3 separate regions of the Homo sapiens genome follow, and all the other regions are linked to region 2. The links come from fine-mapping of genetic effects on gene expression. A gene starts in region 2. Each other region holds a variant in brackets. All regions are shown on one strand. Distances are from middle to middle.

What was found.
Region 1: its variant is fine-mapped to the expression of MAU2 in whole blood (INTERVAL, PIP 0.97).
Region 3: its variant is fine-mapped to the expression of MAU2 in whole blood (INTERVAL, PIP 0.97).

What each region holds. Positions count from the first base shown.
Region 1 is chr19:19,257,032-19,261,131 of GRCh38, reverse strand. It overlaps HAPLN4 (hyaluronan and proteoglycan link protein 4), which reads left to right. Exons shown (of 5, transcript NM_023002.3): 3 at 1-319; 4 at 2,277-2,609; 5 at 2,924-4,100. The coding sequence ends at 3,315. Among named protein-coding and RNA genes, the nearest start is that of HAPLN4, 3.7 kb to the left of the region's middle. The variant T/C (reference allele first, on the strand shown) is at 2,506.
Region 2 is chr19:19,318,898-19,322,997 of GRCh38, reverse strand. It overlaps MAU2 (MAU2 sister chromatid cohesion factor), which reads right to left and starts at 2,169. Exons shown (of 19, transcript NM_015329.4): 1 at 1,863-2,169. The coding sequence starts at 2,138. SUGP1 (SURP and G-patch domain containing 1) reads left to right here and starts at 2,489. Exons shown (of 14, transcript NM_172231.4): 1 at 2,489-2,535. The coding sequence starts at 2,502. RefSeq lists a silencer at 1,789-2,010 and enhancers at 1,382-2,353, 2,062-2,551, 2,572-2,621.
Region 3 is chr19:19,544,790-19,548,889 of GRCh38, reverse strand. CILP2 (cartilage intermediate layer protein 2) reads right to left here. Exons shown (of 8, transcript NM_153221.2): 8 at 2,231-4,100. The coding sequence ends at 2,874. Among named protein-coding and RNA genes, the nearest start is that of CILP2, 8.6 kb to the right of the region's middle. RefSeq lists an enhancer at 2,825-3,508. The variant A/G (reference allele first, on the strand shown) is at 2,109.

The DNA of each region.
Region 1 (4,100 bases), 62 kb after region 2:
GTGGTAAGCCACCGTGGTGGCACCATCGTCTTGCCCTGCCGCTACCACTATGAGGCAGCCGCCCACGGTCACGACGGCGTCCGGCTCAAGTGGACAAAGGTGGTGGACCCGCTGGCCTTCACCGACGTCTTCGTGGCACTAGGCCCCCAGCACCGGGCATTCGGCAGCTACCGTGGGCGGGCTGAGCTGCAGGGCGACGGGCCTGGGGATGCCTCCCTGGTCCTCCGCAACGTCACGCTGCAAGACTACGGGCGCTATGAGTGCGAAGTCACCAATGAGCTGGAAGATGACGCTGGCATGGTCAAGCTGGACCTGGAAGGTGATCAGCCGGTGGGGAGGATAAACCTTGCTTCTGAGGAAGGAGGGGGGCGGGGATGGCAAGGGACATAAACCAAATCAAGTTGGCCTGCAGGCATTTAGAAGGTTGGTTGGGGTAGAGCCCCCATATCTGGTTCTGGGTGATTTTCCTCCCCAGGGACATTGGCGATGTCTGGAGATATTTTACGTTGTCACATCTGGAGAAGGCAGTTGCTACTAGCCCCTAGTGGGTAGAGGCCAGGGATGCAGCTATACATCCTACCAGGCACAGGATAGTCCCCCACAAGGAGTGATCCAGGCCGGGCATGGTGGCTCACGACTGTAATCCCAGCACTTTGGGAGGTTGAGGCAGGCGGATCACCTGAGGTCAGGAGTTCAAGACCAGCCTGGCCAACATGCCAAAACCCCATCTCTAGTAAAAATACAAAAATTAGCCAGGCATGGTGGTGCATTCCTGTAATTCTAGCTACTTGGGAGGCTGAGGCAGGAAAATCTCTTGAACCCGGGAGGTGGAGGTTGCGGTGAGTGGAGATCGTGCCACTGCACTCCAGCCTGGGCGACAGAGCGAGACTCCATCTCAAAAATAAATAAATAAATACATAAATAAAATAAAATAAAAGTGATCCAGTCCAAAATGTCCACAATGAGGACACTGAGAAGTCCTGGGATAGGATTCAGGCACAGTGAGATCCAGGCACTCACACCGTGTCAGGAACCATCCTTCTGCTCTGCTTCCCAGGTAGGCTTTCTTCCGACAGGCTTCTCTTTCTGGAACCAAGACCACAGTGCCTAGGCTTTCACTTCCCTGCTTAGCAACTGATTTCCTAGGAGCAGCAGCTAGAGTCCCAGAGTTGTCCCTCACTGGCTCAGCTTGAGTCATGTGCCCAACTGTGAGCCAATCACTGTAGCTGGAAGATGGGATGCTCTGATTGGCTCACCCTGGAGCTGGGAGGTGGGGTTTCTATTTGAAGAATTCCCTCCCATTTGATTGGCCTTTTCCAGTTCTCTTTAGAAGATTCTAGGTGAGATTTCAGGGCCCTTGCTTGCTGACCTCCCTAACAATAACAAATAACAACAATAATAGCAGCAGCTCTCCTTTACTGGACATTTTCTGTGGCAGGTGCTTAGTTGAAGAGTTCTCAGGAGTCTCTAATTTAATTTCCTAAAAACCCCAAGGGAGACAGCTATTACCAGCAGATGGACAACAGGCTCAGAGAGGTTAGAGCCTTGCCCAGGACAGTGCTAGTTGGTGGCAGAGACAGGATTCAATCCCCAGTCTGTCAGCTCCAGGCCTTCTCCCTGGACCCTGTCTGCCTCTTTCCAGGGTACCCCACTCACCCCCAACCCGCGTCCCTCAAACACAGACACACAAAATACTTGAGCTGAACGGACTGTGAGTCCAATGAGGGACAAGTTCCAAAGTCATCAGAACTGAAGGTAGAAGGGAACCCAGTGGGTACTCCCTTGGACAATGCTGGGGGAATCAAAGGGGTCTTCACCTAGGGCCAATCTTCCAGGGGGTCCTAGTCTAGGAGAGTCAGCACTGAACGCAGGCTCCGTGGGCTCAGGGCTGGACCAGAGGGAGGGACCCAGTACTGGCGGAATGTCAGAGGCACACAGGACTCAATGGAAGAGGGTTTGGGAGTTGGATTTTGAAGGATGAATAGGAGTTCAACAGGTAGAATAAGGTGGAAAGAGCATGAGCAAAGTCCTCCAGAGGTGGAAGGGGATGGACACAAATAGTATGTTAAGGGGGAGGGTCAAGTGAATCCCAAGCTTAAAGTGAAGGGAGACAGCTATATGGGGTGTGAGCTGGGGAGGATCGTGGTCAGGTCTGAGGCCAGAGTGAGGAGGAATGGACTGAAAGGTCCCGGTTGAAGAGTCACATAGCACCCCAGACGTCAGGTGCATGAGGGTGGGCTGGGGTGTACCTGCTGATCCCGTGCGCCCCCCGCCAGGCGTGGTCTTTCCCTACCACCCCCGTGGAGGCCGATACAAGCTGACCTTCGCGGAGGCGCAGCGCGCGTGCGCCGAGCAGGACGGCATCCTGGCATCTGCAGAACAGCTGCACGCGGCCTGGCGCGACGGCCTGGACTGGTGCAACGCGGGCTGGTTGCGCGACGGCTCAGTGCAATACCCCGTGAACCGGCCCCGGGAGCCCTGCGGCGGCCTGGGGGGGACCGGGAG[T/C]GCAGGGGGCGGCGGTGATGCCAACGGGGGCCTGCGCAACTACGGGTATCGCCATAACGCCGAGGAACGCTACGACGCCTTCTGCTTCACGTCCAACCTGCCGGGTGCGTAGGCCTCACCCCAAGACTGGCCTCTGCTGCAACACTACCCCAACCCCGGGGCCTTCTTCCCCACCCAGCTCTTAGCGATCAGAAACAGGAGACCCCTCTCCCAAGAGTGCCTAGGCGCAGCACACACCGCCTGGTACCAACGCTGGTTGGGCCTAGGCTGGGGTCCCAGGCTGCAAAGGAGGAACTGTTCCTGGATCCCGGGGCCGAGGCCAGAGTCCTAGGCTGCATGCGGGGGGCAGTCCTGAATCCCACCGAAGCAGGGTCCCAGGAGCCGCACTAATAACCCACCCCCCACCTCACCCCCGCAGGGCGCGTGTTCTTCCTGAAGCCGCTGCGACCTGTACCCTTCTCCGGAGCTGCGCGCGCGTGTGCTGCGCGTGGCGCGGCCGTGGCCAAGGTGGGGCAGCTGTTCGCCGCGTGGAAGCTGCAGCTGCTAGACCGCTGCACCGCGGGTTGGCTGGCCGATGGCAGTGCGCGCTACCCCATCGTGAACCCGCGAGCGCGCTGCGGAGGCCGCAGGCCTGGTGTGCGCAGCCTCGGCTTCCCGGACGCCACCCGACGGCTCTTCGGCGTCTACTGCTACCGCGCTCCAGGAGCACCGGACCCGGCACCTGGCGGCTGGGGCTGGGGCTGGGCGGGCGGCGGCGGCTGGGCAGGGGGCGCGCGCGATCCTGCTGCCTGGACCCCTCTGCACGTCTAGGCTGGGAGTAGGCGGACAGCCAGGGCGCTTGACCACTGGTCTAGAGCCCTGTGGTCCCCTGGAGCCTGGCCACGCCCTTGAAGCCCTGGACACTGGCCACATTCCCTGTGGTCCCTTACAAACTAACTGTGCCCCTGGGGTCCCTGAAGACTGGCTAGTCCTGGCAGAACAGTACTTTGGAGTTCCCTGGAGCCTGGCCAGCCCTCACCTCTTCTGGATAGAGGATTCCCCCAACTCCCCAACTTTCTCCATGAGGGTCACGCCCCCTGAGGACCTCAGGAGGCCAGCAGAACCCGCAGGCTCCTGAAGACTGGCCACGCCTCCTGAGACCACTTGGAAACAGACCAACTGCCCCCGTGGTCGCCTGGTGGCTGGACCCCCGGGATTGACTAGAGACCGGCCGTACACCTTCTGCATCTCACTGGAGACTGAACACTAGTCCCTTGCGGTCACGTGGGACACTGGGCGCCTCCTCCTCCCCCTCCTCCTCACCTGGAGAGACTACAGGAACTTCAGGGTCACTCCCCGTGGTCACATGGAGGTTGTGGGCCGAGGCGCTTATTTTCCCTTATGGTGACCTGAGTCCTGGAGACTCCCATTCTCCCCCTCTCCCTGAGAGTCCCCTGCAGTTTCTGGGTAACAGGGCACACCCCTCTAGTTTCATGGGCGAGCACCCCCATCTGCCACCTCAGACTGACACACAGCCAGCTGGCTCACTTACTGGGGGCCACGTCCCACCCCTCAGATATTTCTTTGAAGGGAGAGCAAACCCACCCTGTCCTCTG
Region 2 (4,100 bases):
AATCACTTGAACCCGGGAGACGGAGGTTGCAGTGGGCTGAGATCCTGCCATTGCGCTACAGCCCCGGCAACAAGAGCGAAACTCCGTCTCAAAATAAACAAATAAATAAAATAAAATAAAATAAAGTCTCCTTCCAACTTTTCAGTCTGTGAAACAAAGATTTGATCTATTCCTCAAGGCAAGTTGTTACTAGCTGAGGGTGGGCTTGGATTTACCTCAGATTAATGAGTTTTTAAAATCTGAGTTGATTCTTTTCAATAATTTTCTATTCAAGCAGGACAGAGCTGGGTAAAAGGTAAAAGGGAGGCAGGGGTCTGACAGGATCACAGCGCTGCTGTGAGAAAAAAACGACTCCACAGCCTGAAATTTTATTATTTTTTCCTTATTATCTTTTTTTTCTGAGACAGGGTTTCACTGTCACCAAGGCTGGAGTGAAGTGGCGTGATCACTGCTCACTGCAGCCACGACCTCCCGGGGCTTAGCTGATCCTCCCACCTCAGCCTCTGGAGTAGATGGGACTACAGGCCCGCGTCAGTACGCCCAGCTAGTTTTTGTATTTTTTGTAGAGACGGGATCTCACTGTGTTGCCCAGGCTGGTCTCAAACTCCTGGGGTCTAGTAATCTGTCTGCCTCCGCCTCCCAAAATACTGGGATTACAGACATAAGCCACTGAGCCTGGCCCTAGAAAGTTTATTAAAGGGGCCGGGCGCGGTGGCTCAAGCCTGTAATCCCAGCACTGTGGGAGGCCGAGGTGGGCAGATCATGAGGTCAGGAGATGGAGACCACCCTGGCTAACACGGTGAAACCCCATCTCTACTAAAAAATACAAAAAATTAGGCAGGCGTGGTGGCGGGCGCCTGTAGTCTCAGCTACTCAGGAGGCTGAGGCAGGAGAATGGCCTGAACCCGGGAGGCGGAACTTGCAGTGAGCCAAGATGGCACCACTGCACTCCAGCCTGGGTGACAGAGCAAGACTCCGTCTCAAAAAAAAAAAAAAAAAGAAAGTTTACTAAAGGGCAGAATGACAGCCACTCTCCCGCATTCTTTGAGGCACCAAGATGACACAAATCAAGTTGGGTCAGGGGAGGGACTCACTCTGACGGAAGAGGATGGACTGATGGATGGTAGAAGTCACCAGTGGATGGAGAAAAAGCAGGAGCTGCTTTTAGTTCCCCTAATACTGAAACTGAACAGCGGGGCCTGGAATCCAGAACCCCTGTTTCTCCTCCTCATAGGCCTCAAATGACCAACTCCAGACTCCGGGTCTCAGCTTCCCTCGTACGACACCAGGCATTATTGATGGGGGCACAAGACCCTCCAAAAACCACGATTACCAAACTTCTGTGTCCAAGGAGAATCATGCCCTTCCAGGTTCCTGAGAGACCAGACTTCAGATTCCCGGGAGAATGCCAGGGGTCTCGCCTTCGCCAACCCCTACCCCAAGTCACTTTAGGTGGAAGCGTTTGGGGCTGATGCTCCGGAAGCTGAACCAGGAGGAGCTAATAGCTTCAGGACCCTGTGATGTCCCCATCGCCACCAACAGGTGGGATCCTCCTGAAAACCAGACGATTTGCGGATCCTGTTGCTCCCAATAACAGGCAACTTTCAGAGTACGGTGACGGGGCTCCTGGAGCCCTGTCACCAGAAACGGGAAATAAGGCGTGGGGGGCGAGGCTTTCGTGTCCCTTGAGAGGCTGGTGGCTTTGGGGTCCGGCAGAGGCGGGTGGGGGTCCTGCGGCTTTGACGGAGGTCGCGCCCCCAGGTCGCCGAGGAGCGGCCCCCCACCCGCCGCGGTCGCGACCCGTCAGCCCAGATCTTGCAAGGAGCCCGCGACTCCTCCCTCGCGGCCCGGCCCGCGCTCACCGCCTTCTCCAGGTGGCTGCGCGCCTGCTCGCTGTTCTTGGTGTGGTGATAGAGAACGGAGCCCAGCTGCAGGTGTGTACGGGCCTCGATGCGCTGCGGCGGCTTGAAGGGGAACACGGCCTGCAGGCAGTGCACGCACAGGCGGATTTTGGGCGGGCTGGAAGTGCGGAAGTGCTCAGCGAAGCCCAGAAGCGCCAGGTACCACGAGTCGGCCGCCTCGGCCTGCGCAGCCTGGGCCGCCGCCGCCTGGGCCGCTGCCGCCGCCTGAGCCGCCATTTTGGCCTCCACAACAACAAGCCGCCGCCACAGGGAGGCGGAAGCAGGCGCGCGAGACGGGGCCGGGCTCTCCTCGCGGCTTCCGCGAGATCTGCCGCCCAAAGCATCCTGGAACATGTAGTTTGTATTTGGGATGACTGCCGCTCCGGGAAGGTGTAAAAGGGCGACGCCGTTTGGTTATCGTGACTGGGACTTAGGCATCGCTGATAGGCTGAGGCTTCCGTTTCTGGAGGTTAAAAAAAAAAAAACCCAGTCGTTCACGCAGTAATAGGGCGAGTCTGACCGAGGCGGACTACATCTCCCATCAGGCGATGCACACTATAACAGGGCCCCTTAAGGGGCGCCGGAGCATTGTGGGATTGGATGAGTCTCAAGATGGACAACCGGGATGTTGCAGGTAACAGCCCCCGCCTCCTCTCAGGCGGCCGCCTGGGTCCCTGGGGCTAGGTGTCTCCCCTGACTCCTCGGGTCCGTCCTGCTGCGACCCGTGGATCCCTCGCTTCAGCCCCGGGGCAGCCCACAGCGTCGGCTTCTGCACCTCTTGGTTTCTCGAGACCCCAGACCCAGGTTGCTGGCCGCCCCCGCTTGGTTTGCTGAGGACGCACGGATCTCCGTAGAGGCCGCCACCCGGCTCGGCCCTGCGTCCCGTTTCCGAAACAACCGCCTTCAGGGCTGCTCCAACCTCCGTTCCCCAATACGGCGACAACCTTGGGCTGTCCCTGCACCCCTCTTTTCGTCGCAGCTGGCCTCTGGCCTGTGTCCCGCTTTCTGGAAAAGCTGCTTTTCCGAAGTGCTTTGAGGCTCCCTTGACACACTTTCCCGCGTCTTTTGACCCTCACTTTGCTGCAAGCCTTGGCCTTTCTGCTTCCCCAGAATAGAATGCATTTACCCATCAGCAGATACTTAGGGCGTGCTCACTGTGTGCCAAGCAGTGTGCTGGGCGCTACGCATGCAGCGGTGACCGAAACAGGGCCCTGCCTTCCTGGAGGTTGCTTTCTACTGGGGTGTCAGTGCATTAATGAGAAAATATTTACAAAAACTTACGTATGATGTGAGGTTACGTATGATATGATCAGAGTGGAGGCTTCTGATATTGGGTAGTCAGGAAAGACCTTTTCTTTCTTTCTTTCTTTTTTTTTTTTTTTTTTTTTTTGAGACAGGGTCTCACTTTGTCGCCCAGGCTGTAGTGCAGTGGCTCACTGTGGCTCCCTGGGTTCAGGTGATCCTCCCACCTCAGCCTCCCTAGTAGCTGAGACCACAGATGCGCGCCACCACACAGCGAATTTGTGTGTTTTTTGTGTTGCCACGTTTCCCATGCAGGTCTGGAATTCCTAGGCTCAAGCGATCCTCCCATCTCAGCCTCTTAAAGTGCTGGGGTTACGTAAAGGTGTGAGCCACCACACCTGGCCCAGGGAAAGGCCTTTTCAAGCAGAGGACATTTGAGTTAAGACAATGAATGCCAGCTATGGGAATCCCTGGAGGGTGGAGCCTTCCACACAGAGGGGGGCCAGTAAATGCAGAGGCCCTGGTAGGATGGGCTTGTCCTTTTGAAGAATGTCAAGGATGAAGCAGAAGGGAGGGGAACCATCTGGCGGGGCCTTGAAAATGGCCTTTTAGAATTCTTTTTTTCTTTTTGTTGAAGCGGAGTTTCGCTCTGTCGCCCAGGCTGGAGTGCAGTGGCACGATGTCGGCTGACTGCAACCTCTACCTCCCGGGTTCAAGCCATTCTTCTGCCTCAGCCTCCTGAGTAGCTGGGATTACAGGCGCCGGCCACCGCACCTGGCCAGTGTTTTTGTGTATTTTTAGTAGAGACGGGGTATCACCATGTTGGCCAGGCTGGTCTCGATCTCCTGACCTCAAGTGATCTGCCTGCTTCAGCCTCCCAGGTGCTGGGATTACAGGTGTGAGTCACCATGCCCGGCTCAGACTTTTAAAATTTGGATTTTATTCTGAGTCCCATGG
Region 3 (4,100 bases), 230 kb before region 2:
ACAGTCAGTCAACGCTCAATGTGTGTTCATTTTTATCTCCCTCCTCTTGGATTCTGTGGTTTGAAGACTCTTGTTTTAAACATTTTACTGTTCCAAGATTTTTTCCCCATCATGGTGCTAGGAATTTTAAGAACCCCTGGTTCTAAAATTATAAAAGTCTAAAATGCCGTGGGCGGGACCAAGGGCCTGTTTGTGCCCTGAGCTGACCCAGGGTGGCTGCAGCTGGGGGTCTCTTCGAGGGGGTCCCCTGCCCCTCACTCCTCCCAGACTGAGGGGGTGTGGTCTGGCAGCCCCAATTTGGTTGGGGGGTAGACAATGGATTTACCAGGAGGCGGACGGTAGCCCAGGTTCCAGGAGGGAGGGGGTGGGATTCCTGGCTTGAGGGCTGCAGTTGGGGGAGACAGGCAGTGTCAAGAGGCACAAGGCTGTTGACTCAGGTTGATGGCGTCCTTCTCTTGGAGCCTCAGTTTCCTCATCTGGAAATTGTGGCCAAACGCTGCCCTCTTGCAGAGTTATCAGCAGGGATGGGGAGGAGCTGGACTCTAGCCCCGTGCCCTGCCCAGCTTTTGCTTCAGCCATGTCCTCCTCCTGAGATGCCCTTCCTGGCCCAGGCGTGGTGACTGGGGAGGGGGCTTCTGGAGGATGCCCGTCCACCCCTGCCCCACCCTAGGGAAGGGGACAGGGCTGGGCCAGCTGCCCGCTCCATGCCTGGCTGGCCGCCCTAGCCTGGCAGCGTCGGAGGCCCCAACACTTTCTCAATGAAAGGTATTTGGCCGTGGAGCCTGACACCTCATCACCCTCCGCCTGGAAAGCTGCAGCCAGCTTTGCCCGCTTCAAGTGGGAGCGCCCCCATTCCCACCCCTCCCCAGGACCCCCACCAGGCAGCCCTGAGCAGGGTTCTGTGGCAGGCAGGCCGGGAACCTAGGTTGCCTTGGGAGGGGCCTGTGCCTCTGAGCCTATCAGCTGGGGGTATAGAGACAGTAAGTTCTGGATAAATGTGTGTTCTCCCAAGCCCTGCCAGCTCCCTCAGGGACCTCTCGCCTCTCTTGCCTGTCACAGCCTATCGAGGGTGAGGCTGGGGTGCCAATGTCTGGGGCTGCCCAAACCCAAACTCCAGCAGAGCCCTTAGGGCCCACCTTCAGAGACCAGGGGTGACGCCTCGCATCTTGGGCTTCTCCCATGCCTCCAGGCCCCCAAGTCCACCCTAGGGCAAAGGAAGTGTTTCCCTGACTGAAAGGGTGAGAGCTGCGGAGGTTCGGATTTGCCAAGACCTCAGCCGAAGGGGGGATGTGGCCAGTGGACAAGAGCCAGGGACCCTCTGGGTGGAGCACTGGCCCAGGGCATATTGGGGTATGCACGTGTGAGCCTGTCTCCCCCTAGAGAGATAGGCTCTCTCAGGTCCCCTGAAGTTGCTAGTGCAGAGCTCACACCTCTAAATGCTGGATGGGTGAATGATGAGATCGGGGGTCTGGAGAGGGGAGCCAGTGAATGGGTGGGAGATTGAAGAGGAAGTGGGTGGTTGCCCCCTAAGCTAAGGGACGCTCCATACCCCCACTCCCTAGGGGGTGTCAGCCAGGGACAAGTCTCCCATCCCAGGTGCCCTGGAGGCCACTCCAGTCTTGCCACATTGATGCCTTCATCCCCAGACCCTGGGGAATCACACACCTAGAGCTATAGGGGGCTCAAACCTGCTGGGATTCATGCCAGACCCCAGGACTTCAGTTTTTCTGTCTGGACAGTGGGGGTGTGGTCAGGACAGCGCCGGCCCTGTGGAGCGCCAGGAGGACACACGTGCACACAGACTGCCAGCCAGCCGTGATTCTGCCGCCTCCAGACCCAGGGTCCTGGCAAGGTCAGAAAGCCCTGGCCTCGGGCAGCCCCGTCGCCACATGACCGAGGTGTGGCCGGGGTTCAGGTGGGTGGGGCCCAGGGTGGGGCTGCTGTGGACTCGACTGAGGAGGTCCAGGGTGGCCTGGCTTGCTGTTGCCTGCCCCAGAGGCTCCCCTGCCAGGGCCCCTCCCTGCCTGCTGTAGCCCCGGGGCATACGGCCAGGCACAGCCAAGGAGTCCAGGCCAGAGCAGCAGGCTGCCACTGTGTTCAGCGGTCAC[A/G]GCCGCCCGTGCTTCTTGCCCCCGGCACCCGCGTGTGCCTCCGCGTGTTTCTGCCTGAAAGGTGTATCTGGGCCGGGCAGCCCCAGCCTCCATCCTTCCTCCCTAGAGCCTGACACCATGAGTTGGAAATAAAGCATTTTTAATTCAGCCCCCGGAGGGCCTGCCCAACGCCCCGGGCAGGTCTCTAAGCACCAAACACGTGAGAATTGTTCCCCTCAGCCCCAGAGCCTCCCCCGCATGGGAACCCCTTCCTCCTTTTCACTGGGCCCAGCCTGGACCCCACACCCCCACTCACACCCACAACCAGCTCCCCACACTTTGTTTCAATAAATAACCCCAAAAACAAAGCTCGGGGCAGGGGACCTGGTCTAGCACTGAGCTCCAAACAGGCAGAGGGGACTTTGTGCCAAACGCCAGAACTCCCAAGGGTAGAAGATTGAAATCAGGGTCAAAATACGCACGAGAAGTCAGAGACGGCTTCTGAGCTGGGAGCGGGTCCCTTCAGGCTAGGGTTGAACGTCGTCCCCTGGGTGCTGGCCCCAGAGTCACCGCAAACTCCATTCCATACCACACAGCAACAATTGTCTTCCTGGTGTTTCTACCATCGGATGCTCTGGGTTCTTGTCTGACTCTGAGTTCTGGAAAGGGGCGGGAAAGGGGACCCAGACACCTGGGGAGGGGGCTGTCTGGAGAAGAAGGAGGGGCAAAACTTCCTGGGGTCAAAGGAGTCTGGAGGGAGGTGGGAAAGCGAGGCCCCTGCCCAGGTCACTGCCGGACCCTACCCCGGCGGGTGCGGAGGGGACCTGAGGCCCGGGCCTGTGCCTGCGCCGCCTCGCTCATCTCCCTGCGGATGTCACCAAGTGCTGTCGCCGGGGACTCCAGCAGCCTCTGGAAGAGGCTGGGTCGTCCGGCCGGTGGCTCCCGGCACTGGAAGGTGACGGCTGTGCCGGCATCAGCCTTCATCTCTCTGGAGAAGCCGTCAGAGGAACCATCAAAGCAGCGGCCAATGGCGATCTCCTTGGCCAAGCGTGGGCTCTGGTCAGTGACAGTGTAGACGCCATAGTTGTGGCCCAGAGGGTCTAGGGGGGCCAGCATGGAGAAGGCAGCTGGGTCCTCCGCGGGCACCGGTGGGGGGTGCCGGGTCAGGTAATCCCGAAGGAGTCCGTTGACGGCCACGCGCCGGCAGCTGCCCTGGGGCATAATGGTCACCAGCGTCCTGTCCACCTGCCGCTGGTCGAACAGCATCCCGCTGCACTTGAACTCCACGCAGGCTGCCGAGGTGCCCGGACGCTCGGGGTCTCGCACACTCCGGGCATCCCGAAGTCCGTAGAGCTGGCCGCGGGTGCGTGGGTGGCTGCCCCCTGCGTTGTGGGAGCGGACCATATACTCCTGGGGACCCTGGATCTTCACCTTGAGGAAGCAGGCCCGGAACTCCTGCGGGTTGGGCCACCAGGCCAGGAGATCGCCAGTCCAGGAGGCAGGTGTGCCCTCTCGGAAGGGGACCACGTTGTACTCGTACTTGTCCGCCTCCACCCTGGCGAAGCGGAAGTGGCTGGCAGTCACCGGGGCCCCCTGGCATTCCCGCAGGCTGCGCCACGGGTACACAGGCCCATTGGCCTCGGCGGGGTCACCTGGCCTGGGCTTGGCGAGGTTGATGCGGAAGCCGTTACGCTTGAAGGCGGGATCGTCGTGGTCCGTCCGACGGTACCCCAGCCTGTCCAGGTAGGGCTGGGTGACGCCCACGGTGGCCGGGAGTGGGCGGGGCAAGGAAGGGGCCGGCTCCAGCTCCTCGCCGCCCAGGGTGGCGGTGACCAGGGCGGTGTAGGCGTCTGGCCTGTCGGCGTCGCAGAAGGCGGGGAGGCAGGCGCCATTGGGGCCGGTGACCGCGCTGTCAAAGCGGCCCCAGGCACGGGGGTTGGCGGAGAAGCCGGGGGCGGGCTCCAGATTGACCAGCGTGACCACCACGCCCTCCACCTGCTCGCTGGGGGTGAA